2 separate regions of the Homo sapiens genome follow, and region 1 is linked to region 2. The links come from fine-mapping of genetic effects on gene expression. A gene starts in region 2. The other region holds a variant in brackets. All regions are shown on one strand. Distances are between the middles of the regions. Region 1 overlaps GIMD1 (GIMAP family P-loop NTPase domain containing 1). Region 2 holds the start of AIMP1 (aminoacyl tRNA synthetase complex interacting multifunctional protein 1).

Region 1 (17,295 bases), 39 kb before region 2:
CATTATTCATAGGGAAACAATTCAGAACTTCAGATTCTTTGCTTGCCTTATCAGTTGTAGCATAAGTGACTGCTCCATTCTAGCCAAAAGAAGACCATAGGGACCTCAGGTTGAGCATAAATAACACATGCCACCTTTCCCTGGTGGTCTATTCCAATTTGTTTGCTTGTTCATTCATTATAGGTCACTAAGTTGGAGGCTTATTCACAGTCTTCAACTGTGAATAAGGAGAGGAGCTGGATAAGAGGCCTGGACATGACCACAGCTAGGAGATGGAGGGAGTTGGGAGTTTGTGTGTGTGTGTGTGTGTGTACGTGTGTGTACATGTGTGTGTGTGCATATGATGTGTGGACTATTACTAACAATAGTCCACACAGCCCTGTGTAGACTATTACTAACAATAGTCCACACAGCCCTGTATAGACTATTACTAACAATTCCTGGAAACTATTCCTAACAATTCCTGGAAACTATTCATTGAGCTGCTCTATTCTATTCAATCTGTTGATTCTTCAGTCTGAGTCAATCTAAATTTAGCTGCTGGACTTCACTAGTATTACTCAAGAGCCTCAATGAGTCACTGAGCTCAGAGACACCAGGTCTATTAGAAGCTCCACAGTTAAACTTTATACTGAATGGTGAACAGATCTTTTCTGTTCAAGAAGAACTTGTAAAAATGCTACCCTTCTTTTGGTTCAGTCTCAGCTCATACTGACATAGGCCCTGTTACAGCCCAGAAAGATAGTTACTTGGTTTTAATGAAGATTTTTTCCTTTAACTAGAAAAGATACTTCTACGTGACAGATACACGCATTGTTTTTCAGTAACTGTGCATGTTTCTAAAAATGAAAAAAAAAAACCCAGCCATATGTATAATCACAAGAAACTAGCAGAAAAATCAGGGTGACAGGAGCATAAAAAATGCTCATCATGTAACTCCTGAAAAACCAAGGACCTGCTATACAAAAGTAAGGAAGAATAGAAGATGATTGCAATTAAGAAACAGTATGGGATCTAAGAAAGCCCACAAGCCTCCTCCAAATTATGAAAGCCTGTATTTCAAGCAATGTTTCTGGTAGAAATCAAGTGGTGGGAAGCCTGCATCCATGACACCAGTATAATCTTTAGACAGTTCTTAAAAATTCATTTAAAGCTATTATTAAGTAAACATTTAGATGAGGCTATAGATGGATATAATTCAGTAAATGCAGTAAACACATAAACAACTCTTTTTCAAAAGCTACCCTGACTCTTTCCATACGTCTCAATATTTCCCTACCATGAACCTATGCTGAGCCCAAAAGGTTATTTTAAATATCATACATTTTGAAAATAGGTTTTAATAGTTTTAGCATATGGGACAATAATGTCATCTGTGAGTCTTTTTTATATATGTGAACTCAATTCATACATGTCTTTGGTCGTTTAAAACAATATTTGGCATATAGTCTTCTCTTACAGATGCCTTCCAAATCAGTATGCAATTCAGGAACTGAAGGCAGCAAGGAGATGAGCTAGGGCAAAGCTCAGATCCCAAATATTTCTTTCTGAAATAAATAACTTCCGTCTCCCAAGAAAATCAGCAGCCAAGGTTTAATAATCTTGAGTGGCCTATGATCCCTGGGAGCACTGCAGACCTATTCCAGGGTTCTGCTACGGTCTTTGGTTGATGGTCACTTAAGCACAGGCTGGCTGTTTGTGATCTTCCTGAAGGTGCCTCAGATACTGGTGGCAGCCATCTGTATGTGCTCACAGATTGGAAGCTGTTGCAGAGTGTCTGAATATTCAACAGGACCAGCAGCTGTTAGGAAGGAGCAAGAAGCTGTTAGGTCCTCAGGTTTCAGGCACACTATGGATTTCTTTTTCTTCCTGGCTGATGCAAAATGGAGTATGGAGTATCTGCCTTCTTTCTTTTACCCCTTTTCAGGGGCACTGACTAGTACTGTAGAAGGAGCCTACCAAGCCAGAGTCAGAGAAGTAGCTTCTTCTTTCCCATGCCTCCCGGTTGTCTCTTTAAATATCTTCCCCAATTTGTACTCTAATATTTTGCAGAGGAGTTATATTCTACTGGCTGTGACGATGGAAACATTTTCCCCAAATGATCCCTTTTTCTTTTTGTTAGGCCTTTATTAATTTACAGTAAAATGAAAGAGATATCAGTGAGTCATGTCCCCAAAATCAAGAAATAGAAGGAAGAATTTATTCAAATATTATCTGGAATCTCATTTGAATGTTTATAAACCCACAAATAATGAATCAGAGAAGATATAATATAGTCACCTCAAGGAAAGAGCTGGCATACAGCCAAGCTGCAGTAGGAATTGTACCTAGGTATTGCCTATGGTCCATTTCCGCCCCCCCCCCCCCATTATGGTATTCTGTATTATTACTGCGTACAAGCAAGTTTCAAGCATGTACTTTTATTTCATCATCAACAACCGAGCTGTTGATGTTGCAGACGAATGTGTTTACAAAAAGCTCGGAAAAGCTAATTCAGAGCCTGAAAATACTAAATGAAGATTGTGGGCTTAGTTGTTAGAATTTAGTTAAAAAAACAAGCCTAATTACTTCATAGGTGTATGACTATAAATGTTACTAAAACTTTCTTGGTTTCAATTCCTTACTTGTAATGTGGAGATAATTTTATGTATGTTAAGAGTTCTGAGCATTATATTTAATAAATACATCATGCTCAGCATTGTGCCTACTTACAGTAGGTCACAGAAAATGGTAAAGTATTACTAGTATTGTTGTTTTTATTGTTATGATCACTACTGAGATTGTGAATGAGTACTCATTCAAATGAACTACTGGATATGGGCAAGATAGCATAGAGATTACGAGATGGGTTCTAAAGTATTCAAGTCTTAGCTACTTATTTGCTTTGTGATCTCGGGCAAGTAACTTCTGTAAACTTCATTGGTAAATTGAGAAAGACAGTAGTGTCTGCTTCATTGGGTTACTTGTGGGATTAATGCCCTTTCAACGGTAAATGATATAGCTTAGGCACAGGCACGTGGCAAGTGCACAGCAAATAGCTCTGGCCATTATTATTTCATTGTTAGTATTTGTCTTATCCTAAAATTAGGAAATAGTGTTTTTTAGGTTTATCCTGGTAGACTTATGAAGAAAATAAGAGTAAAATCAAATTTACGTGGCCCTGATTTATAAACATAAGAAGTAACTTTTTTATTAATTTAGAAAAAAAATCTGGAAAAATCTTCACTGGCTTAGTATGGTTAAATTGAAGAGCCCCAATTTAGTGGGAAAGATGGGGGACCTTGGTTCCAGGTCCAAGCCTGTCAATAATCAGCCATATGACTTTGGCCAAGTCATTTAACACCGTAAGTCCTCAATACCTCATCTGTAAAATGAGGCAGTTTATAAGATGATCTCTGAGGTTGAATATTCTCTGGATCTGGCCTAATGAGAAATTATCATTCAGCTTTGGCTCTCTGAAAAGGAAAATGTAATGTTTTAATTGGGGTGAGAGTAAGGGAATAGCATAAAGTATAAAAAAATGGTCCTCATTGTCCTCCTGTTCCGTGATAATTTTTTTCTCAGTTGATGTAATAGTTGGCTTTTTGTTTGTTTGTTTCACCCTAAAAAGTCCAGATGCTATGATTTCATCAACCACAAACAAATGGGGCAGGGCTGGTGAGGTCCTGGGAAAATGAACATAATTCCTGGATAACAAAGTTTATATCCTAACCAGTAGTCCCAAAAGGACTAAATGGACTCATACCCATTAGCACTCAAACCAAACAATTCATGATTGATCATAAAATTTTCATCTAGCTTAGTACTATATTTAAATTATTAACACCAGATAACTTACATTAACTTATCTTGCTTTTGGATTTTTATGTGAGGTATCAATCAACTGTAATGATTCTTTCTCTGGGTCCATAGAGAACATGTTTGGCCACTAACGTGATGACTATTCAGCAAGCAACACTACTTTCAAATATTCAACTATTTTCTGGCCAAAATCGACTTAAAGATTTTAAGCTAAATCAACCACTCTCTTCTGTTTTTGGCAGTAATTCAAAAGTGCAATTTCTCTCACAGTTTAAGGTATGAGCATCCTTTCATAAATAAATGTGTAAAAACTTCCCAGTGGCTGAACACATGGACTTTTAAGTGGCATGGCACTTACAAATCTATTATCCTTAGGTGATTTAACTCACGTTCTCTGAATGAGATTGTGGTTTAAAGTATGGGAAATGTCTGGTGGAGACCAAAAGGGAACATGTTAATGTTACAATACAGAAAAACAGGAACAAAAGAAATACTATGAAAGTTAAACCATTTACTTCATTAAGTACTAACCTAGAAAGAAAATAATTCTGTGTTACGATATATAACTCAAGAAAGGATTGTTTGTGCCAAATAGTTTATTTAGCATGCACATTTATTGTAGCAATACTGTATTTCAAAAATATTTAAGGAGGCAAATACCTTATTCATTAAGTCACTGGGGCTCAAAAATATTTAATAACAAGTATGATCTACACATCAGCCAATACATATCTAAGGGTAAGTTTAGGATGGCTCTCAAGGAGTTAAGAGCAGTAGCTATTTAATAATTTGTATGAAAACATTTTGATATCTGACAATCAGTATGACCATATTCATAGCGTACTTGGTGAATATCAGGTCTGGCTCTAAATTTGATAATCTTTCAGAGATAAGAGTGATCAAAGATCAATAGCTGTACTTGTTTAGAAATAAAATCTCAATGCTGTACAATCTCAATCATGCTTGATTACATTAATTACCTTGTTAATTCCTATGTATTTTTTAAGAATCTGGTGACTGCATCATCACATGCAAGACATCTTGTCTGGTCTTTCCTTTTTACCCTTACTTCCCACCTCCACCCCAAAATGGGCAAAATGATCACCTTTATAATGCTAACATAATTTCTATCACACTTGCAATTGAAACAAATTCAAAGTATTTCTTTCCTGTCTGTCTCCCTTCCCAAGTTAATTTAGTACACAAAAATCTCCACTAACTGTAAACAGAATATGTCTGTCTTGTTCCACACCTGTCCCTACCATGTAGAGCATGCCTAGAACAAAGTAGACCCTCAATAAATATTTGCAGAAGGAATAAATCATCTAAAATGCTTTATAAAATTCAGATTCCAGGCTCCAGCCCTAATGGTTCTGATGCATTTTTAGAAAGCCTCCCAGGTGATTCTGATGCAAATGATCCAGGGATTGCTGTATTCCCAGAGGCCAGATCTAATATACTTAGTACTTTATTAATTTTTTTAGCCACTTGCATTAGTTTGCTAGGGCTCCTGTAACAAAGTACCACAACCTGGGTGGCATAAACAGCAGGTATTTACTGTCTTTCAGTTCTGGAGGCTAGAAGTCTGAAATGAAGGTGTTGTAAGGGTTGTCTCCTTCTGATAGCTGTGAGAGAAGATCTGTTCCAGGCTTCTTTCTTTGGCTTGTAGATGGCTATCTTCACGTACGCATGGCACTCTCCCGGGACTTGCGTCTTTGCCCAAATTTCCCTTTTTTTATAAGGACACCAATCATACTAGACAGGGACTCACCCTAATGACCTTAGCTTAAATAATTATATTTGCAATGACCCTATTTCCAAATAAGATCACATCCGGAAGAACTGGGGATCGGAATTTCAACACATGAGTTTGGCGGAGGATGCAATTCAACCCATAACATCACTGCTCATTTACTTTGCAACTCTGTGACTCCTCTTCCAGCAGAGACCTGTTAACAATATACAGAATATACAACAAACTCTAAAGAGGTCTGCTAATTTTGCTATGTTACCATTAGGCAAAATGGGATGCTGACATTATATGGATACTAATTTTTTAAAAATTTATTTTTTAAAGTTTATAATCTATTACAGTAATTATTCCCTAATATACTGATTGTGAAACTTTAAGCAGGGTATTTTTAGAAGGAATAGAAATATGCAGTTATTCTATGGTGGGTGTACATAGAAAAATTTTGAACACATATGAAGAAAAAGTTTGGGCCTATTCCTTGAAAGAGTCCCTCTGAATAGAAAATAGTCCAGACTACAGGCAAATTCATGATGATAAACTGCAAAAAAAAGAAGCTTTACAAAGATTAATTATACTTCAAAACCAAAACCTCAAAAGAAATAAATAGAACCCTAAGACTTCTATTTGAGATGACAATGAGGGTCTAAATTCCAAATTAATTTAACAGATGTTTACTGAAAGTTTACAATGTGCTAAAAGCTTTGATTGATATGGAAAGACATGAATCTTGCCTTCAAAGAGTTCACTATGAAGTTGTAGAAATTGATGTATAAATAAATGAATCTGATAAAAGCCAGACTGTATCAGTTGTAATTGGTGACCATGATTGTGATGTTTCTAATTTTAAATGTTTTGTCCCGTAGTTCTCACGAGTATTTTCATGTTAGATTTACCTATCCAGATTCCTTCTTTCCTTACTCCTGCTTGCCTTCCTTCCTTCCTTTCTCCTTTCTTCCTTTTCTGTTTTCTTTCTTATTTCCTTCTTCTTTTTTCTTTGTTTTCAATTTTTCCATATTATAAATTCTAATCCTGTATTTTTTAGGTACATTGAAAATGATTTCCCAGACTGTCTTTCAATATTTTCAATAATTTTTTAAAACCAGAGTTTGTACTAATACATATAACTCAAAGTCTTTATAAGTCAGTTTGCCAATATCATAATGGAGATAATAATAGTATCTCCCACAAATAATTGCATTAAGCTTCAAAAGAGGTAACGCATGTAAAGTGCTTAGCATAATATCTGGCACTAAATGTTAGTTTTTCTCCTTTCTTTCTTTCTTCTGATTATTAGAGGTCTTGGGTGTTTCTTATTATGTTTATTCCTAGGCATTTTGTATTTTTCTTGCCATAAACTAGTAGTAGCTTTGGAAATATTTTGGTAATAGGAGTGTTCGGAATGGAGGTAATGTTATTTTGTTGTCACATTGTGATTTCATGTAACTTTAGAAATATCCCAAAAAGTTCAAGGGTTATTTCTAGATGCCTTTTATATTACATGAACAATTTGCCACATGCTGTTACTTCTGCTTTATATCAGCTTATATTCACTAATCAAACAAGAATTTATTACATAACCAACTTCCACATATTACTAAACAAAGGAATGCCAGTCTTCAATGTTTTTCAACCACATTAGAGGAAGTCATCAGATAAATTGGGTTCCATTCTAAGCATGTGAAGTCAAGAAGATGAGACTCACAGTTATAATATTTTGTGGTTCGTCCAAATCACCAAATGTATTTTTATCTGAGCTTTTCCATTACATGTCACCTGATTAATCAATAGATTCTTAACAGATTATGTAATTTTATATCTTTAGTAGATGCTTTTAATGATAATGATAAAAGTAAAAGATAAAACAATTCCCTTGACTAAGGTCCTCCGACTTAAATTCAGTGGCTTTAATGGACTCAGGTAGTCAGACAAGTATAAATGATTACTGAATGTTGAGAAATCTATGCAGCAATGATAATATGCAGTTTTGAGGTTGTGTATATATCAATTATCATAGTAAAATAAAAGAGAGAATTTAATTCTCTGTTTAATCCTGCCTTTTTCAGAAAGTCAAGCCTTTTCCCTCCATTTACTTAAAATACTTGACCCTGTCTTCATTTCCTACATTGTATATCAGCTTTCAGAAACATAATAATATGGATCTGCTGGCTATCTATATTGGACCGTAATAAATCCTTTGCTCATTTTTGAGGAATATAGTTCAAGTTCAATAGTTATCTAACTTCTCTCTTTCAGGAACTTCTTGGACATGCTTGGATGAATTACACAGCCATTCTTTTTACCCATGCAGAAAAAATAGAAGAGGCTGGGCTTACTGAAGATAAATATTTACATGAGGCCTCTGATACCCTGAAAACGCTGCTAAATTCTATTCAGCACAAATACGTTTTCCAGTACAAAAAAGGAAAATCACTCAATGAACAAAGAATGAAAATCTTAGAAAGAATCATGGAATTTATAAAAGAGAACTGTTACCAAGTTCTTACATTTAAATAAAATTTAGGTGAAAGGAAAGGAGCATTGGGTATTGGAGTCAGAAACCTAGCTACAAAGAATGCCTTTATTGACATGAATGTGGACCATAAGTATTCTGATATGCTGCTGGTGAGAGTGTACATTGGTATAACCACTTTGGAAAACTAGAAGTTAAAAAGAACATCAATGATTCAAGATTTCTAATGCAAATCCCATGACATAGCAATTACACTCCTAAGTGTATACCCAACATAAATGTGTACATTTGTGTACTAGAAGACATGTATGCACAATAATGTTCATGGAACTACTATTCAAAAGCTAAACATACAGACTATTCAAATGTCTATTAATATTAGAATGGTTAAGTAAATTGTGGTATATTCCCACAGTGGGATATTAGAATAAGTAATTAGAATAAGCAAGCTCAACTATATGTAACGATACCAGTGAATTGCCCAAACATAATGTTGAAAAATAAGCCAGACATAAAAGAGTACATACTCCATGATTCCATGTGCAGAAAGTTCAAAAACAGTAAAACAAATGTAATCTAAACTACTCTGATGGTAGAAGTGCTGGAAATTGGGAGAGTGGTTAACCTTGGGGAGGAGATTGTGAGTGAAAGGTTACACTTGATGTGGCTTCTGAGATTCTGGTCATGTTCTTTTGTTCTCTTGATTTGGAGCCTGGTTTCACAGGATTTGTTCACTTTGTGAAAATGCAACAACAAACACTTGTGATTTATAAACTACTTGTATATGCTATATTTAAATAAAAGTTAAAAATAATTAGTTATTATCCATTAAAAAGGAACTAGCTCCACTGCTTACTTGATGCCAGAAAAGAAAAATTGTTTAAACTTGTCAGAGTCTGTTTCCTTCTTTGGAATACCTACTCATAGTTATTGTAATGATTAAATGCCATGGCACATGGTAGTTGCTTAAAATATGTTAATTTTCTTTTCCACTTCCTTGTAACCTGTGGTTTCTATTTCAGTTTGGAAACATTTGGTAAAAACTCAGAGCAAGCCCTTTAGCAAAAATGAGTATAACAATTGTGATAATTGACTATGAATAAAGCCTTCACTAAAGACCTTCTACCTTTGAAGGTTGGCCACTATGGTTTAGTGGAGAGCTTCAGGATGGTCCCAATGGTAGCAGTGAAAATTGAAGGAAAATAATTCCAATCAGTGATAAGAGTGAAGTCCACCAGCAAGTCAAAATTAGATCACTTTCATAAATATTTGTATATGAACTTCATAATTTATAAAATTTTTTCACAAAGATAGTTCCCAATTTACAGTTTGTTCTTATAAGCCGGTGGTTATTCTCCCAGAGTAGTCTTCAAAAGCCTACTTTAATGCACAATATTATGTGAACTCCAGTACACGTTTGAATTTGTGCTAGATTTATAAAATGTTTCTATAGGAAAGCATAATACAGATTCCAACTTAAAACAACATCTCACTTATTTCTTTGCATGACCTCTTGCTCCTATGCTGTGGGCCCTGGACTGAGAAGTGGGAGACTCAACAATGGGGCAGAGTTTGGAAGTGCAGTGAGAACTGACACTTGCCCCACGGGTTGTTGGGGCTTGGGACAGAGAAAGAGACTTGATGCTAAGAAGTTGAAACAATGGTGACTGGTGGAGAAAAGGAGAATGGAAAAGAATTCAGGTGTTAAGTTCTTCATATGCTTCATTTATGTGTTGTCAGTTAACTTTTCTAGAAAACAAAAACTAGTTCATTTCAGGAAGTATATATGGTGCAGAACATTAAGGATTTAAGCTCTGTGAGGCTGGCCTGATATTGATGATTAATAGAGAGGTGCTTTTAGTCAAAGAGGATTTCTGTGATATTCTTCCCTGAATTATTTATTTTTATATTTGCATATACAGTATCACCCCTTATCTGTGATTTCACTTTCTGTGGTTTCAGTTACCTGTGGTCAATTGCAATCTGGAAATATTACATAAATAAGATTTCTTAAGAGAGAGACCACATTCACATAACTTTTATTACAGTATATTGTTGTAATTGTTCTAGTTTATTTTTAGTTATTCTTGTCAATCTCCTACTGTGTCTAATTTAAAAACTAAACTTTATCACAGGAATGTACATATAGGAAAACATAGTATGTTTAGGGCTCAGTACTCTCTTTGGCTTCAGGCATCCATTAGGGCCTTGGAACATATTCCCTCTGGATAAGGTGTTCCTACTGTGTATACATGTGTGTATATACACACACAGACATTTCCACATAAATACTTAAATGTGGTAGTATTACATACTTTATTTTCTTTTAGCAGTCTTATGTGGCTTTTTTGCTTTGCCTTTACCTCTCTCCTCTTCTCCTTGCAAATCTGCCCATTACAGATAACTGATGCCAACCAAAAGCCTGGTGTCCACTGTTTCTATTTTTCTTCATGTCCAGGTAATCATCCCCACACAGCACATATAAACACATAAAAATATACAGGGCTTTTCAACTTAAAAACAAGTTTTTGTATTACACTCTTCATAATATATTTTTCTTTCACTTTAACACGGTTGTAGGACTTTCTCCTCGTTTCAGCTAAAAACTGGGTTCTTGTCACACGACCAAGAAAGATTAGGCTCATGGACACATAGAAGGGTGAGAAAAACGGAATTTATTGGGTGAAAAACGAAAAAAAGCTCAGCAAAGTGAGAGGGGTTCCTGTTAATGGGACCCCATCTCACCAATTGAATCCCAGGTTACCACCCAGTGACAGGAGAGGCTAGGCTCCTCCTCTCTGCAAACAACAAGAACTTCCCGCGGCTCCACCTTGTCCTCTCTGTGTGCAGGCCAGTTGGAGATTCTCCAGGAGCCCTTTTTACTTGGCTGTCTCAACACCACCTCATTTAAATTTTTCCAAACCTAAAATATAGCCCAAATTCATTCTTTTTAAAGGCTGCAAAACATTTCACAGTGTTTATGTAACAATTTATGCAACTGCT[C/T]CTCTGTTGATGAGCTTTCCAGTTTTCTGTCACCCAAAGCAATGCTCAAGCAACTATTCTTGTACATATATTTTTAGTTAATACTATTTTTCTGTAAGTTATATTCCCAAGAGTATATATATAAAAGTATAAAAGTATATATACATTTAATATATCTTAACAGATTCTTTGTAAAAATATTGTGATAAACTTGATTTCCAACAACGTGAGTTGTTTTCTCCCCATCAATGGGTGTTATCATCTTGAACACCTATTGTTAACAAGTTGAATAAATGTAAAACCACAGCCCACTGTTACTTTATTTGCATTTCCCAATTGGAACGATTTTCTGTATTTGGAACATTTTTGTGTAAGCATTTTGGTAATTTAGACTTAGTCTTTTATGAATTGGCTCTTCACATCCTTTGTCCTTTTGTCATTTCTTTTTCTATTGGATTACTTTTTGTTTGGCAAATTGGAAGAGCTCTATGTATGTTACAGATATTAACCCTCTGTCTGTCCTCTGAGTAACAATTGTTTTTTCAAATCTATTATTTGTCCTTTAACTTTGTATGGTAAGTTTTGCCAAACTAAATTTGTGAAATTTTTTATAGTCATATATTTCCGTGTACATGATATAGCTGGTTTTAGTTTTACTTCCTTTCAGATGAGTAACCAGTTGTATTTGTTCTATTTATAAATTCATCCTTTTACTACTTATATGGTAGGTAGGTAGCTAGATATAGAGACTGAAACGTATATCCTGGATCTATTTCTGGATTTATCCTGTATTTTTAATCCTATTCTGTTACCTATTTTATTTATATTGTTCTCAATACCAAAGTGATTTAATTGTAATAATTTTATATCATTCCTTGATATCTAGGAGGTCAAACTTGTTTTCTTTTTTCAAAATATTTTCTGGTTATACTCAGGCATTCATTCATACATGTTCTTAGATTGTTTTTCCTAAATTAAAAAAAAAATATTTTGTGTGTGTGTGTGTGTGTGTGTGTGTGTGTGTGTGTGTATGGTAAATGACACCCCATGATATTAAATCTTCCTTTACAAGGACACAGAATATTACATTATGTTTATTATTTTATATTAGTGTATTTATTGTATTTTTTCTTTTCCTTAGTTTTGCTACCTTGATAACATTGCTATTAATTCAATATTTCCCCTTGATAATTTGGAAGTTCTATTCTAATTCACCCTCATTAAAGATTATTTTCTTGCCCCTGATTTCACAATCATGTACATACTTCTCTGCTATTGCCTGATGACACAGTATGAACTATTTCCCTTACCAAGAATTTCCTACTATTAAAATAAGACCCTTACAATACTTCCATTTCCGCCCTAGTTCTCTTTCTCCTATCCTCCCCAGAAAAGTGGACTTTGGAATGCTTTTCCTTTCACCATATTACTAGATTGTGCTCAGATATTTAATTATTTAATTCAAGACTCCCCCTTGCAGGTTGTCCCTTTTGTTTCAAGAGTCCTTTCTTATAACTTACATTGCATATATCCTGGTAGTTTATCATTAGCTCTTTTAATTCAATATACAAATAGTAGAAGGTCCATATCTTACCACTGTTTTCCTTCCTCTTCATCTTTTCCCATCTTTCTGGTTAGTGTGTTTTCCCAATATACTCTGAATTCTAGTATAATATCCATGAAGCATTAAATTCTAGACATACTCTTCTGTGTACCATTATGCAATAGCAATCCTAGCTTTTCATAAGAATCAGCATAGTGGGTGTAGGGAAATATTTTGTTAGTTGGTAATGGGGATGTTGGATTATATGAATGTTAAGGCACTGAAGTGAACGTCTTGCTGCTGTTCTCCATTTGAGGCTGGTTTGTTCAGCTTTTTCTGGATGACAGTGTGTGCATATTCATTGAATAAACTCATCTGTTCTGGAGGTAATTACAACTTGCAGCTGTTGGGGGCTCAAAAGACCATATTCCAAATACGAGACCTTGGCATGCTGAGTACTTTGAACTGAAGGAGATTGGAGGAGCTTCAGAGGCAAGGTCTTTCTGTCCTTCTCCTGCCCTCCTATGTTCCACCTCTTTTTCCCCTTGAAGAAAGTCACAGAAACCAGAATTTCTTATCCTGAAAGCAAGCCATAAAACTTAGAAAGGTCACTGTCTCCCTTCTCCCTTGATGACCCTCATTCCAGAAGGGTCCTGCCCCATACCCAGGGGAAGGCATGCTACAGACACCAAGAAGAATCTGGATGGCCTTGCTGGGTTTCCCTGACCAGTCTATTACAGTTTAGCACTTTCTCTTTTATCCAATTACATTGCTATATGGCTGTCCATTCTTCAGCAATCCTAGGCACAAAATAGACAGCTTTCCCTGAGTCTTTTGGTCTTCATTTCTGAGGGCTCGTGTATCATGTAAAACTTGGATTAAATACACTTATGTTTTTCTCTTGTCTTTTGTTACAGGAGTGTCAGCTTTGACTCTTAAGATGGGTAAGGAAAGGTATCACATCTTTCTGCCCCTACGCATCTAAAGAACCATGAGACTAGGATTACTTTAAGTAAAATAAGCGATGTCCAGCAAGTTCATCTTTTGTACCCTGCCACCTTTCCTATGAGAGTCTATTATTTGCAATATTTTCTCATGTCCCTCTAGATGCCTAATCTGTATGCTGTTCTCATCCAGACACCAAAAATCTCTACTAAAGCTTAATTTGAAAGTGCTTTGAGTATTTTAGAGGATTGGAAGACAGTGTATCTGATGTTTTTGTGCAGCTAGTGTTAAAGTCTCATTAGTGCATTCAATGTGGGGTCACCAGTGATTACCCCTGCAATCTATCAGCTCTGACTCTTGCCAGGCTTGTTCCTCTAGATACATCACCTCAAACAGCATTTTCAAAGACTTTCTTTTTTAAAGCTATGTTTATCTATATTTTTTATATTAAAATTTTTCTTAGATTTTCTATTCTACTGATTTTCAGATATACTGTACTTCTTTTACATAAAGCTAATGCTTTTATGTGGCATTGCTATTTCCCAGATTCTCACTCCAACTTTGTTTTCAAAACAAATCTCTCCAAAAGTATCTGAAAAGTTTTTGTTTTTGTTTTCAATGTATGTGCAGTTTTAACACAAAAATGTTATCCTTTTATAGGAAAACTGAAAGTTTTCGAAAAAAGTTATTTCTACTGAAATCATTCCCTTTTGCTAAACTTATTGAAAGTGACTTTTAGTTTGCATTTTTCATTAATCTTTTTCAAAGAGAAATACAGTTGTGGTGTTGATTTTGGATGACTCTTGCACTGTTCTTTCCAAATTCCCCAGGTGTGAAAATTTGAGGGATTTTAAATGAACAAGTATCAGCCAAATATGCAATCTGAAAACCAAAGTGCACATATATATTGGGTGCATTTCTCTGCTGGGATGCATGATATTCTAATGAGGCAATTTACAAAAACAAATGTAAAACTTTGTCAGAGCAGCCTTAATATGAAGGTTCATCACAAAAAGGCCATTGAGGAAATAAGACATTAACAATGGCTATTTGAACAATTCTGTAGGCATTATGTAGCAATGGGAAGGGCAAGAGTAGTTAACGCTTCATTAAAAAGGATTTTTCTTTCTTGCAATTATTGGGTCTCAGGCTTGTTTCTGCTCCTGTTGCTAAGGCCAACAGCCTGCCAGATAGGAAATGATGTTGATGAAGACAAAAATCATACTTACACACGTTTTTGTACTTAAACATCTAGAGAATTGGGAATAGTGTGTGTTAGGATAGGTGGAAGTTAGAAAGGAAGGGGAAAAAAAAACCCAAATACATAAGGGTGAAAAAATACAATATACAATAATTAGTTCACACTCTGAAATTCCAGATGGCTCACTTTCACACCAACAATTATTTCATTGTTCTGGGTCCTTCCTCCAAATATTTTTATGGAGTTATACTCCTATGAGTTATCTCTGCCAAGATTTACTCAAAGGAAAAACCATAACTATACAAAGTACAATGCAAAATAATGTGAAGTGACTCTTTCTAATTCCAACAAGTTGGTACCTGAAGATGATTCAGTTTTGTACAGAGGCATATTAGCCATCAGCAACTATCCTTTTCATCATTATTGCAAATTTTGGGGTTATAAGTAGTATCACAATGGAGTATACCTATGTTTCTGTTTTAAATTATCTATCTGTATGGAACTTAGTGACATCTATCATGTTGGCTTTTGGGATGGACTGTCATTACACATTCAGTGCCCTCAATAACAGCGCACTATTCAAAGAATCATGGTATAAACCTCTTCAAAAAGGCAACTGCTACCAGCAGCAGCAGCTTGGTTTTGCCAAGTGAATTCTCCCTATATATTTGAATAGTAAAAAGAAAAAAAATTGATAAATTCTCTTCATAACCACTCCAAAGAGTGTTTAATAATCTCAACTCTCCCTTTAGAATCTCTTAAGTATTCCACTAAAGGAGCTAATCATAAACTACTCAAATTTAGGTATTTTTATGTCACTATTTTTCTCTAACATTTAAAGTAAAGCTAAACTTTTCATTCAAATAAAAGAAACCACATGACCATTTAACTAACATGTTAAGAAAGCATGATGTATTGGAGAACACAGGATCAGTAAGAACTGAAAAAAATTAAACCAGGTTTCAACTTTGTATGGGGCATTTATTTAACTTTTCTGTTGACTCTTTGGGGTAAAATGGCTGATCTACCTCAAAAGGAGCTTTTAAGGGGTGGATAAAACACATGAAAAGACTAGTTAGAAGGCAATAACAATCTTAATAGTAATTCTGTAATAAAATCCATGACAGTAGACATGTATTATTAATATATCACCCTTACATTTGTTAGAGAAGGCATGATTATTCCTTAACTAAAATTTTGGAGGGTAGAGCTTTCTCCATGAGACAGCAATTTGCAACATTATTGCCTGTTGAGCATACTAATTTGCCCTTCCTAGTTCTTTTTATTTTGCATCTTGGTGATAAAGTTGTAATTTTCATACTGCTGGATAGCACTTAGAATCAGGACTTGTGTCACTATTTATGTAGGTGAAATACATGGCTAATGTTATATACTTCTGATACTTTTATATTTTAAAAGGACGTATCATTTCTCTGAAAAATTGAGGAGGTATACTCAGGCCATTTTAATGCCCAGTTATAAGAAACAGCGAGGTGCTCCCCAACTAAGATTTTTTTTTTTTTTTTTTTTTTTTTTTTTTTTTTTTTTTTTTTTTGAGACAGGGTCTCAACTCTGTAGCCTAGTTTGGAGTGCAGTGGTGCAATCACAGCACACTGCAGCCTTGCTCTCCTGGGCTCAAAGTGATCCTCCCACCAAACACTACCCCCTATCGTTGAAATCCTTAAAAACCAGAATACATCAGATGCTGAAGTGTTATGTCCAGTTTGCCAACAATGCTATTTCTTTGTTGATTCCGTAAGAGCTCTCCCATCCCAGCAATACAAATAAAACAGAATTAAGTTTTCTGTGAAAACAAGTACTGAATAGGGCTGAATGGATAACTTGGTCAATGCTTTCATACAACTTGAAAAATCACTGATTAATTCTCCACTTCTTTCTCTCTTTAGCACTCTTTAGCATGGATTTTTACATGGTAAAGACCTGTGGGAATTATGGAGGGAAGCATGGACATTTGTTATAATTTGGTAAGGCATAATATAGTACTTGAGAAAGACAAATGTGACATTTTTGGAATGTACTCTTTTGTAGTAAGTCGTCATAAATTTCAGCACAAATGAGCTACTGATGATGCTACATTATGGGCTTTTAACAAAAGACCAATAGTTTTTATTATCTCTAGGTTTGATGAACGATTTAATCATCAGTTTAGGTTTCACTAACAAAACATTAGATAATTTGATCTGGGGTACAGTATTTCAACATTTAGTTGGGAAAATTTCAACTACCTAGGTAGTTGAAATATTATTTAAATTATATTAAAGAAATTTAATATAATTGAGAAAAATTAGAGCAAAAAACTCACAAAAGACTTTGTCACCAGAAGTATTTATTCCCAAAAGAATGACATATCTTGAGAACAAAGTAACTTTTGAAATTCATTTTGTGTTTAGGTACCAACAATTGTTAATGACGCTCAGTTCATATTTTCAGAATATCACATTGATAATGGTACTATAATATATCCTGGCCTACCAGAGTTCCATGGATTTAAATAAATAAAATTTAATTCTGCCTTTTATAACATGCAGGGTTGTTTTATGGTTGTTGAGTTTTGTGTGAGTGTGTGTATTTGTGTGTGC
Region 2 (12,856 bases):
AAATGCAGAAAACAGGCTATTTAGCCACATTTAAGGTTGAAAGCTTTCAAAGAAAGCTTCAGGTACACTAAGAGATAAGAATAACAATAACCGTAACTATGCTAATGAGTATTACATCTGTGTTCCAAAGTAAAGAGTTGCTGATTTCATTCCTTTTATATTTCTGTATACTGGATCCTTCTACTGTGTATTCACTTAGGTACAATTTTCAAGAAGAAAACGTCAATTAGGAAAGATAAATATTAAAAGAAAAAATCAACAATTAAGAAAATATTAATCATATGCTTGTTCAGATATAATGTCAGTATATACCGTTGTCTTTATTTTAAAAATTAGAATTTTAGTTTTATAATAAATTCAGAGAAATTTAAAAAAATACTATCAAGGTACAGAAAAATGTATGTAAGCAAACATTCTGAGATTAATTCACCATGTTAAAATTTAAACTGCCACATACTAAGAAAAATAATCACACTGACAATGGAGAGGTTAATCATTAGTAATACTATGAACTGTTCTTTTCTACCTGATTTAACAAGAATTTATAATTCAAGGTATAACAATGATACAAGTATTGCTGAAATAATTCTAACTTTAAATAAATGAAGCAGTACTCAATATTAATGGTGAAATTTTGAATAAAAACTAGATAATAGACACGTAACAGATTGTTTGAAAATTTCAAATTATTATATAATACCAATCCTATATAAAAAATATTCTGAAAAGCCACAATACACTGGCTGGTATTTATTTTTGAGGTGACTGTCTAGATCTGTTGGCTCATTTTTGAGCATCAGTCTATACTTAAATCTACTTGTTTCATATTAGCTGATACTAGTTTTCTAGTTTTTCTCTTAATTTTGAAATTTGAATAAGATGATTTGAGCCATATCTTTTCAAAATGTATTTTTCTAAAATGCACCAATTCATTCATTTTAGTATTATTCATCAAATATGTCTTTGCTAGAGATGTAAAACTTGCCAATTCTGCCTAATCAGATACTCATTATTGTTTGTGATAGCTACATTTTACCTATTGAGTATATTTCATCATTACTTATGTTAGACTAAAATAAAAAGACATCAAAAACTAAAGAAATGCTGTACTCAGGATACTAAAATTCAGAAGAGCATAGTTTTTTTTTTTTTTTTACTTTAACTTTCTTCATATATCCATTTCTATTAAGATATTTTCTCTACAATTCTGGCTTTGCAAACGTTTAAGTAACAACATGGTATTCTGTGTTCATTTTGGTAAAAATAGCAGAGTTTAAAGGTGGTATCTTCATTTGAATTTTTGTGCTCTTTTGGTCTGTATTTTTCTAAACTGTTAAAATAATAGTCCATAAAGAATAATGCTCATAAATAAGCCAACAGTTCTAGACAGTCCTTCAAAAATAAATACCCACCAAGTTGCTGAAAAATCAAAAAAAGAAACTCATGTTCTGACTCATACAGAAACATATAAAAAATCTTCTAAGAATAACAGTAATTTTGAAAATAGAGATAATAAATCCTAGCCTAAGAGAAAAAAATACAATTTTACTGAGTTGATAAATCTGTTAACTATTTGCAAAATATAAGTGGAATAGTTAGTTACATAAAATATGACTTTTATAATACATATTGAAGAACAAGCATAAGTTTAGGAAAGAGAATGTCATGTTTCAAAATACAGAAATACAAATGAACTAAACACTAAATACACATATGCAACTACTAAAAGGAAACAATGTGATAAAAAGAAGTGATAAAACTTTTTTTTTTTTTTTTTGAGACAGAGTCTTCCTTTTTCACCCAGGCTGGGGTGCAGTGGCACGATCTTGGCTCACTGCAACCTCCGTCTCCTGGGTTCAAGCGATTCTCCTGCCTTAGCCTCCCAAATAGCCGGGATTACAGGTGCCTGCCACCTGACTAATTTTTGAATTTTTAGTAGAGATGGGGTTTCACCATGTTGGCCAGGCTGGTCTCGAAATCCTGACCTCCCTCAACTGATCTGCCCACCTCGGCTTCCCAAGGTGCTGGGATTACAGGTGTGAGCCATTGCACTGGCGCCCAGACTCTACTTCTTCTCCAGTCCTAGATAACTGGGTATCTGGAAATATTATTCATGATGCCAATGTTAAAAAGTCTCATCTTGTGAAATCTAAAAATATTTCACTTCTAGTTACGTCTGTGTGTTAACAGAACTGTGCTCAAGTGCTAAAAGCCATTTGCTGTCTTTAGAACAGAAGCTCTGGAAACAGGTTTTCTAATACTTGTTGATTAATTATCATTTAAATTTTTTAAAAATATAGGTTGGATGCATAAGTTTATGTTAATGTTTTCTAGTAACATGCAGATAATGATCACTAGCACTGGCAGAGGAACATGGGTATATATACCCTTGGGCTTGCTTATATATACTTAGACTGTGTGACCTTGGTAAAGTTATCTAAATTTTCTATACTTTTTTTTTTTAATTTTTTTTAGTATTTATTGATCATTCTTGGGTGTTTCTTGGAGAGGGGGATTTGGGAGGGTCATAGGACAATAGTGGAGGGAAGGTCAGCAGATAAACATATGAACAAAGGTCTCTGGTTTTCCTAGGCAGAGGGCCCTGCCGCCTTCTGCAGTGTTTGTCCCTGGGTACTTGAGATTAGGGAGTGGTGATAACTCTTAAGGAGCATGCTGCCTTCAAGCATCTGTTTAACAAAGCACATCTTGCACCGCCCTTAATCCATTTAACCCTTAGTGGACACAGCACGTTTCAGAGAGCACGGGCCATTTAACCCTTAGCGGACACAGCACATGTTTCAGAGAGCAGGGGCCATTTAACCCTTAGTGGACACAGCACATGTTTCAGAGAGCACGGGGTTGGGGGTAAGGTTATAGATTAACAGCATCCCAAGGCAGAAGAATTTTTCTTAGTACAGAACAAAATGGAGTCTCCTATGTCTACTTCTTTCCACACAGACACAGTAACAATCTGATCTCTCTTTCTTTTCCCCACATTTCCCCCTTTTCTATTCGACAAAACTGCCATCGTCATCATGGCCCGTTCTCAATGAGCTGTTGGGTACACCTCCCAGACGGGGTGGCGGCCGGGCAGAGGGGCTCCTCACTTCCCAGATGGGGCGGCCGGGCAGAGGCGCCCTCCACCTCCCAGACGGGGCGCCGGCCGGGCGGGGGCTGCCCCCCACCTCCCGGACGGGGCCGCTGCCGGGCGGAAAGCGGAAACGCTCCTCACTTCCCAGACGGGGCGGCTGCCGGGCGGAGGGGCTCCTCACTTCTCAGACCGGGCAGCCGGTCAGAGACGCTCCTCACCTCCCAGACGGGGTGGCGGCGGGGCAGAGACACTCCTCAGTTCCCAGACAGGGTCGCGGCCGGGCAGAGGCGCTCTTCACATCTCAGACGGGGCGACGGGGCAGAGATGCTCCCCACATCCCAGATGATGGGCGGCTGGGCAGAGACGCTCCTCACTTCCTAGACAGGATGACGGCCGGGAAGAGGTGCTCCTCACTTCCCAGACTGGGCGGCCGGGCAGAGGGGCTCCTCACATCCCCGACGATGGGCGGCCAGGCAAAGACGCTCCTCACTTCCTAGACGGGGTGGCGGCCGGGCAGAGGCTGCAATCTCGGCACTTTGGGAGGCCAAGGCAGGCGGCTGGGAGGTGGAGGTTGTAGCGAGCCAAGATCACGCCACTGCACTCCAGCATGGGCAACATTGAGCACTGAGTGAGCGAGACTCCGTCTGCAATCCCGGCACCTCAGGACGCCGAGGCTGGCAGATCACTCGCGGTCAGGAGCTGGAGACCAGCCCGGCCAACACGGTGAAACCCCGTCTCCACCAAAAAATACAAAAACCAGTCAGGAGTGGCGGCGCGCACCTGCAATCCCAGGAACTCGGCAGACTGAGGCAGGAGAATCAGGCAGGGAGGTTGCAGTGAGTCAAGATGGTGGCAGTACAGTCCAGCCTCGGCTCGGCATCAGAGGGAGACGGTGCGGAGAGGGAGAGGGAGAGGGAGAGGGCTATACTTTTCTTAATTTAAAAAATTACTTGTACCTGATTTCACCTCCTACTTCCTTGTCACCTCCTTTCAGGGCTCCTTTTTTTTTTAATCTGTCCCATTAATGATGCTGTTCTTCAGGGTTTGGTCTTAATCACTAATCTTTTCTAGGGATCACAAACTAGCCTGACAAAGTTCAGGGATAGCTTTCTTTTCCAGGGCTAACAGTGTTGGAAATAACTGATGTGAATGTCTTTAAGTAAGACAGACAGACACTTTACTACTCCCTGTTGTCTGCCATTTATATTACCTACCAGGCTCCTAAAATAAGTTCATGACCCCAACTTTACACTCCCTGATTTTGTGTCATGTGCTGGGTTTATAGTAGAGAACAAAAATAAACATGTTCTTTGAACTAACTAAGCTTTCAGACAAATGGGGGAAACACAGTTGAAGACATTTTTAAAATAATGTTACGCTTAGGGCACAGTGATAGTTTAACAACAATACTGCTTAAAGCTCAAACAAATCTTTTACCATTCAACCCAGTGCTCATTTCATTAATCTCTATGCTAATTACTCCCCTGTGATTTTTCAATTTTACATTGAGTATAAGTCAACCTTCAAAATTTTAAATCCTCAGAGTTTCTAATATGTATAAAGTTTCTCATAGATGATAATAACAACTACATATATTTGTAGAACATGCGCTATGGCTGGCTAAATGCTTTACACAAGTCAATTTCGAATACTGTAATAATCTCCATTATACAGAGAAGAAAACTTGAATTAAAATTAATTTGCCTCATGTAATACATAGTAAACGAGGATTGAAACTCAGGTCTGTCTGATGCTGCAGTTAGCTCTTTTAATGCTCTAGCTATAATTTCTCTAAAGGATATAATTACGAAGCATTTTCCAATATATTTAATGACAGAATCCTAACACAGGAACAGCTATTAACATTTATTTGAACTAGTATTCTCTAAAACAGTTTAGGAAATGCTAGTTTAAGTCTCTGGACTAAAATGTAAAAAAATTAAGACTGTGAGATTAAAATAGATATAAGAATGACATGCACAGTAATTGAAAATATAAAACATTTATGAAGAGAGAAGCACAGAAAACTGTAGACCAAGTATGTTAATTGTGTTTGGTGAGGATCAAGACCTTTTCTTTTTCCTTTACTAAATTAAAATGGTAATAATGCATTTTTTAGGACAAAAGCTTTTGAAACATATTATCTAAATCATTCTGTCCCTTCACATTAATTTTGTCCTTCTCAATGTTAATTATCATACTTCATCAAACCTAAAAAGCCATTAATCATACGATGCCTCTAATGCAGAATCCCAAATACTGTACATGAATTTATAGTACATCTTAATCATTAAAATACACACACAAAAGATGATTTTTGAGATTCTGAGATCTTCACTATCATTTTTGTTTACTGAGCAATTTCCTCAGTAGTCCTCCCCACCCACACCATCTAAATTGCCTGCAATCTTTTTGAAAAAGCAAAATCTCTGCCCCACGATGACAACATTGGGAATCAAACATAAGTAAGTTACTACTTTGAAATCAAAGTTTTACAGGCAGACTTTTAATTTTAGAATTCTTATGCTATATAGGAACGCTACACAAATTTGAAAGTGTCTCTACTCAAAACCTCTAATTTCCCTATTTCAGAATTACAGTAGGTAAAAATTTACATTTTTGTTGGAAGCTTTAAATACTATACAAGAAATCTAAAATGCCATCAATTGTAAAATGGCTTCAATCCCAAGAAGCTCTATTATTTTATGTACATTATGAAAAAAAACACTATTGAATCAACTGACCCAATGCTTTCTTATTACTTAGACACATCCTATATTATTTATTGACAGACTTCTTTTAAATTTAACCCTGGATTTTTATCTTGTATCACCCTTTGTTTCCCCACATACACAGTAACTTTTCATTCTAATGCTAATCATAATCTTCTAAATGATCTTTAAAAGGGAAATTACACTCAACAACTATATGCCAATAGTGCATATATAACTCAACTGAAATAATGACAAGATTAAGTTATGACTAAGTGGGTGTAAGTGTGGGCAATGACAAATATCTCACAACTGCCAATTCATCTACAGTGATTTAAAGATGTCAACAACTTAAAAATACATCCCTATTTCAGAGATGTTAAGTAAGAGAAAAATGTGTATCTCAGAATTGATGGAATATAGTAATTTTAATCATTTTCTTCCTTTCTTCTCCTCCCTTCATTCCTATTCTTGCCTTCCAACTTCTTTCCCTGATTTGCTACACAATCTAATTACTGGATATGTAAAAATATTATAGTATACATAAAATACCCCACACTGAAAGACCGTCCTTATTATAGTGTAAAGCAATGTGGTACCTTTTAGCACTAGGTGAAAATTCCTGCTAGGATTTAAATCATATGTGTCAAAAGTCAGAATTTAAAGAAGAAAATTAAATACACTGAGAACAATGCATCTGAAGACACTCAAAATATGTAAGCGCAGCAACCAGCAGTAATTCCCTAGGTCTTTTATCAACCTTTGCCAAAACCTATAAAAAGAATATCTAAAATTGCTTTTTTATGGAAGTTCCTATTTCCCTTACCAGACAGCCTGCTTTCCCTTTACTGATGAGGACATAGGGGGTCCTGGAGGGTTTAAAGGATGGCTATAAGGAATGACTATAGGGTGGACAGCTATGAGAGGCCAGTCCATGCATTTCTAAATACCATCGTCATTAACACAAAAACTTTCCTCCCCAGTACAGAGTCCATAAAATTTAAAAAGGAGTATGCCTTGGCCTCCCATGACCCTCTTACCTCACAATAAGGCCATCTTTTACCTGGTTAAGATTTGCAGACTAGACCCATTACATACCTTGTCATTAAATACCTATAATATACCCTAACCTTTGCAATCTTGACAGATGTGATTTCCATTTTATAGACAGATCCAGGAAAATTACATGACTTATCTGAATCCCTTCAAGTACCACATAGCAAAGCCATGATTTTAACTTGTGTTTGCCACTCTGAAACTCACACTGGAATTCATTTTTCAAGTGTCCTCCAAAGCCTAATTAAATAAAATTAACCCTGTCATCTATAATACTCTTACATATCCAAATTAAGTGCATCAAGAATATAACTGGCCATTTCTTACCACCCATAGTCAAACCACCATTATGCTTCCTCTGGATTATTGCAAAACTCTTCTTATTGGTCTCCTTTCTCCTACCACGTCCTCCTCTGTGTATTTTCCTTAAAGAGTGACCCTCTTAAAAGGAAGTCAGAGCCCATCACTCTACTGCTCAAAACGCTCCAAAGTCCTATTTCATTTAGAATAAAAGTTAGATGTCCTCAAGATCTTCATGACCTGCTCGCCTTGATTTAATCTCCAGTGAAGGACTAAACCCTTCACTCAACTCTGCCCTACAGGCCTCCTTGCTATTCTAGCACGTTTCTGCTTCATGACCTCTGCAATGGCTGGTCCCTCTGTCTGACTGCACTTTCCCAAGATATTCGCGTGGTTAAATCTCCCACTTCTGTCAGCCCTTTACTTAAAAGTCATCTTTTCAGCAAGACCTTCCTGTGTCACTTTATACCCTTCTTCCCTGCTTTACGTTTCTCTTCAGGACTATCACGACCTAAAATACAGTATGTTTCTAATTACTTTGCTTAGTATGTGCCTTCCTCTCTAAAATGTGAGCTACAAGTAGACACAGATTTCCGTCTGTTTTGTTCACTGCTGTTCACCTAATGCCTAGAACGGTGTCTGGAATAGAGTGGGCGCTTAATAACTATTCGCTCAATGAATAAATTCCTGTCTTCACCCTCCTCTCCCCCAAAGCACCTAAGTCCTTTGACACACACATTCACATAACAGTAAATACGCTTAGGGATCGATATTTTTCTGTAGCATTCTTAACTTAGGCCTGCATCCCATTTCTCAAACGTGGCTCCTTTAGAAGGAAGTCTCAAACTCTTTCCTGTTTCCTTAGGCCAGGGCTGGTCCTGCTGCGAACGGACTACCCATTAGCAGCGCAGGCCAGGTCCTCTCTCCTGGAGGCAAGTTAGAGAAGGAAGACCCCTACGATCGCAATCGGCGATCCCCGAGTGAGTGACCCGCCACGACGTCACTCACATGAAGCGGAGGACCACGGGTTCCGAGACAGCCACAGCAGGAAGCATGTAGGTCCAGCCACCCGCGTACTATAGCAGTGAGAAAGGACCCAATGAGGTGTCCTTGCTGAAAGCCTGAGTGTTCTACAGATTCAACCCTCAATTCTTTCTTCCTCTTCCTGTGCTCAGTCCCATTAACCTGCCATACCACGCTCCTCGTCTTCCATTCCCTCACCCAGTATTTTCAATCGACCCCCCCCGTCCCCCCGCACCTCTTTCTCTCTCGCTATATGTCCTTTCGTGGCCAGTTTGGGCAAGGGGAAGGACACCACAAGTCGGGGTCTTTCCTCAGCGTTGGGTCGCGGTGGCTGTGAGGGCGGAAGAAAAGGCCAGGCTGAGGGGAGGGTAGAGGGTGAAAAGCTCGGATCTGTGTTTGGGGAAGGCCAGGCTTGCGCTCCTCGCCGGGTTCCGCGAAGGTTAACCTTGGCTGACTTGGCTCGCGAGCAAAGGGCAGCGTCTGAGCTCCCGGCGTTCCAGGAGTGGCCTCTTTTGTAGGAGCACCTGAAATGCAGCGTCTGGTGCACTAAGCCGTAGCGGCAGCAGCAGCCACAGCGACAGCGCTGGGGCCCTGTGTAGAAGCTCCATCCCCCTTGTCTTTGTGCTTGCCTGCGTCCCCAGACTCAGAGGCAGGTATTTGGGTAATCCAGTTTTCCGTGTCGTAGTGGGTGGGGTCTGTGGGAGGTAGAGGACTATCAGGAGCAGTGAGTGGCCCCGCATGTCTTCAGAATAGATAGAGAACCGAGCTGTGGAGCCGCTTGCTGATAGGTACTGTCTCCATCCCTAGCTACAGCCCGCCTTTCCTGTAAATCAGGTTCACCTGAGTCGTTTGGGAACCGTAGGCTTAGTAATCGCTCTGTCACTGCCTCAAAGGAAGGCTAAAGGAGGTTAGAGAATCTAGAATCCGCCCCTCCATTACTCACCTTGGAGGCAGAATTTTGCTTTGGTTTGTTTCTGGCCCTCGAGGTTTAGTCAGTCGTCAAAGTGTAACACCCCCTTGAGCAGTAGGAGAAAGTGAAGCAGAGGAAGGAAGTTACTTGAGGATTGTCAGTGGCTGCTTTTCAAGGATCCCTGTCCTGGTTTCTATCTATTTGAGACAAAAATAACCTCTTGAGAGAATGTATATATAAAATAAATGAATTAGTATCATTTTCCTGTTGAAGAAATGTGAAATTTTATTCATGATAAAATCGGCGTCTTTTGCCCTATTTTTTACTTTCTTTCCCCATTCGAGTCGTTTAAAACTCTAAGTTCTTTGAGGGCACAGAGTCTGACTTGTTCATTATCCTTTGCCCACCAGCTGGAAAAACAACTGACTTAAAATAGGGGCTTCAAAATATTTGTTGAATGAATGAATTTTCAAGCCCAACTGCTTGCACTGCTGTTTCCCTCATCTAATCTCTCATCTCTACGTTTTTTTTCCCCCGGTAGTTTTCTTCCACTCACGAGGTGTAAGTGAATGTATGTGTGTGTATTTTTGTGTGTGAGCCTTTTTATGTACAACCATTTAAGAGGTAGTGGAAAAAGAACACTGATTATGCTAATTAGTGTTTTATCTTTTTCGATCATTGTGTTTTATTTGGTTATTTTATTTTCAGCTATGTGATGATAAAGACATCTGATTGAAAATAAAATGGTCGGGCGCGGTGGCTCACGCCTGTAGTCCTAGCACTTTGGGAGGTCGAGGCGGGTGGATCACCTGAGGTCAGGAGTTCAAGACCAGCCTGGCCAGGATGGTGAAACCCCGTCTCTACTAAAAATACAAAAATTAGCCGGGCGTGGTGGCGGGCGCCTGTAATCCCAGCCACTCTGGAGGCTGAGGCACAGAATCGCTTGAACCCGGGAGGTGGAAGGATGCAGTGAGCCGAGATCATGCCACTGCACTCCAGCCTTGATGACAGAGTGAGACTCTGTCTCAAAAAAAAAAAAAAAAAAAAAAAAAATCAAGTAGTATAGCGTAGTAGGATTGAATAATAAAGTGCAACTGTCTCACCTGTCCTACTCTCAGTACTGTTCTTCAAAGATAACCACTTTTAACCTTTTCTAATTTTAGGTCTGTAGGTTAAATAATAAGTTAAACTGTTAATTCTTTTTGTTGACTTCTTGAGATAGCCCTAAGTTGAACTGCTAATTCTTTTTCCGTTGACTTCTAGAAATAGCCCACACCATTCACAATCTCCTCTGAATTTTGGAAGAGTCATAATCATAATTTTTAGTTTTTGTATTGGTTACTTTATAATTCAAAATAATATACGTAAACTACTTTTTTCACATCAACTTTTGAAAATATATTTGACTCCTTGTTTGGTAAAACGAGAAAAGTAGTGATTCTACCTTTTTCTTTATCACTTCAGAAACTACATTTATGCCCACTTTCTCTTAGCTGGACATTTACTTGTACATTGTCAAAGTTAGTAATATATTTCTTAACTATAACATTTGCGCTTTATTCACGTGCCAAAAACCAATAAAAAAAATAAAATGTTTACAGTATTATGGCTTTATAGTTGTTACTTAGAGCAAGTCCAAGCTGTATGCTCTGATATGTTTTTTTCCCCAGAGTTTTAACTTCATGATCCCTGTGCCATACTAAGGAGATTATTTATGATATCAAGGTCAAATGGGTTTTTATTTCTTTCCTGCCAAGGGCAAAATATGCTGTAGTTGAGCATGCTTTATATTTTGGAGTATGTAATACATAGTTTTTAACCGTCCCCACTTTCTTAATTGCCTTTCTGCTTTCTCCTGGGGAATAGGTAGGTGGATGTGCTTTCTTCACTGAATCTTCTCATTCTTTGTATGATGCACATAGAAGCAAGCTTCCATTCCTCTGTTTGAAGATTTTCCCCTTAAAGCCCAATGGCTTTCTGTTTAATTTGAACAGATTGCATTCTAGTCCTTTTGTATTGCTCCTATCCTGGGCTTATATTCATTCTTGGGTAAATAACATTGTTTCTTAGCCCCTCATCTTCTGTTATTGGGCTTCCCCCTATTTCCCTGGAATATATCCTAAGGAAACTTGCTCACAAAAGGCAAGTGAAAGGTAATTTTATTTTTTAATGTTCGTATAGCTGTAAATTATAATTTGCTCTTATGACTGATAATTTGGCTGTATATAGAATCAAAAGTATTTTCCTTCAACTCTCAATCCTTCCATGTCTTCTAACTTTTTTTTTTTCCTTTTTTTTGAGCTGGAGTCTCACTGTGTTGCTCAGTCTGGTCTGAAACTCCTGACCTCACGTGATCCTCCCACCTCAGCCTCTCAAGTATCTGGGATCACAGGCACAAGCCACTGCACCAGGCTCTCTTCTGACTTTCATTATTGCTGATGAGAATGCCAGTCTCACTTTAACTTGTTGATAGCAGAATCAGTTTTTTCTGTCTGAAATGTTTACAATTTTCTAGTTACGTTTGATGCTTTGAAAATGTATAGCAGTGTTTATCTTCTCATAAGCTGTTTTATTTTGTGTGAGATAAAATTTGATACATATTAAAACACATTGATTTTAAGTGGCCAATTTAATGAGTTTTGATGCATGTACTCATCCATAAAACCACTACCACCACAATCGAGATAGAGAATATTTCTACCACTACAGAAAGTTCCTCTGTTTCTCTGCTTATTCAACCCCTCTCCCCCATCTACAGTACTATCTTCTGATTTTTTTATTAATACTATAGTTTAGAACTATAGTTCTGGAATTACATTTAAATGGAGTCATACAGTATGAACTCTTTTGTGTCTGCTTCTTTCATAAACTTTATGTTTTTGAGTATATCCATGTTTTGACATGTTTGTTCCATTTTTGTTAAATAGAATTTCATGGTACAAATATGTTAATTGATTCACTTATGGGACATTTGCATTGCTTCTGGTTTTTAGCTATTAAGAGTACAGTTCCTATGAACATACTCATACAGTGTTTTTTTTTATGGACAAATGTTTTCATTTTTCTTGGTTAAAGAGTGGAATTTCTGAGTCATAAGTTAGGGATATTTTTAACTTTAGAAAAGTTTTCCAAATATTTTCCAAAATTCTTTTGCCATTTTACGCTCCCACTAGCAATATAGCAAAGCTCCACTTCCACATTCTCAACACTTGTTACTGCCAGTCATTTAAATTTTAGCCATTGTAGAAGTTAAAGGTTTGTCATTGTGATTTTCATTTGCATTTCCCCCAATTAATGATATTAAGAACTTTTTCATGTGCTTATTATTTTCATGCCTTGTGTGAAAATATGTTTGTGACTTTTACCTATTTATGTATTGGCTTGTTTTATTATTGAATTGTGGTATTTCTTTATAGACTCCGAATACAGGTCAATTATATACAGACACACATATGTTTGATTTTAAAAGGTCATATATATACATAATGTCATATGTATATACAGACAGATGTAAATAATATTTCCCTTTAACTCGAATTTTTATTTTCTCAGGGGTGCCTTTGGATATGCAGATGTTTTTAATTTTGATGAAGTCTACTTTGTCAAAATTGTCTTTTGTGGCTAGTGCTTTGTTCTATTGTGTCTAAGAAATCTTTGCCTAGCCTAAGGTTGTAAAGATATTCGCTTATGTTTTCAATTAGAAGACTAACAGTTTTACCTTTTACGCTTAAGCCTATGTTCCATCTTAGATTTTTGTGGATGTAT

Evidence for each region. PIP is the estimated chance that this variant, and not a neighbour inherited with it, causes the effect.
Region 1: its variant is fine-mapped to the expression of AIMP1 in whole blood (TOPMed, PIP above 0.99).

What each region holds. Positions count from the first base shown.
Region 1 is chr4:106,348,956-106,366,250 of GRCh38, reverse strand. GIMD1 (GIMAP family P-loop NTPase domain containing 1) reads left to right here. Exons shown (of 3, transcript NM_001195138.2): 3 at 7,808-8,859. The coding sequence ends at 8,068. It overlaps AIMP1 (aminoacyl tRNA synthetase complex interacting multifunctional protein 1), which reads right to left. Exons shown (of 7, transcript NM_001142416.2): 7 at 16,795-17,295. Among named protein-coding and RNA genes, the nearest start is that of GIMD1, 11 kb to the left of the region's middle. The variant C/T (reference allele first, on the strand shown) is at 11,028.
Region 2 is chr4:106,311,905-106,324,760 of GRCh38, reverse strand. AIMP1 (aminoacyl tRNA synthetase complex interacting multifunctional protein 1) reads right to left here and starts at 8,211. Exons shown (of 7, transcript NM_001142416.2): 1 at 8,167-8,211. It overlaps TBCK (TBC1 domain containing kinase), which reads left to right and starts at 8,552. Exons shown (of 26, transcript NM_001163435.3): 1 at 8,552-8,830. RefSeq lists enhancers at 8,003-8,252, 8,743-8,802, 8,883-8,972.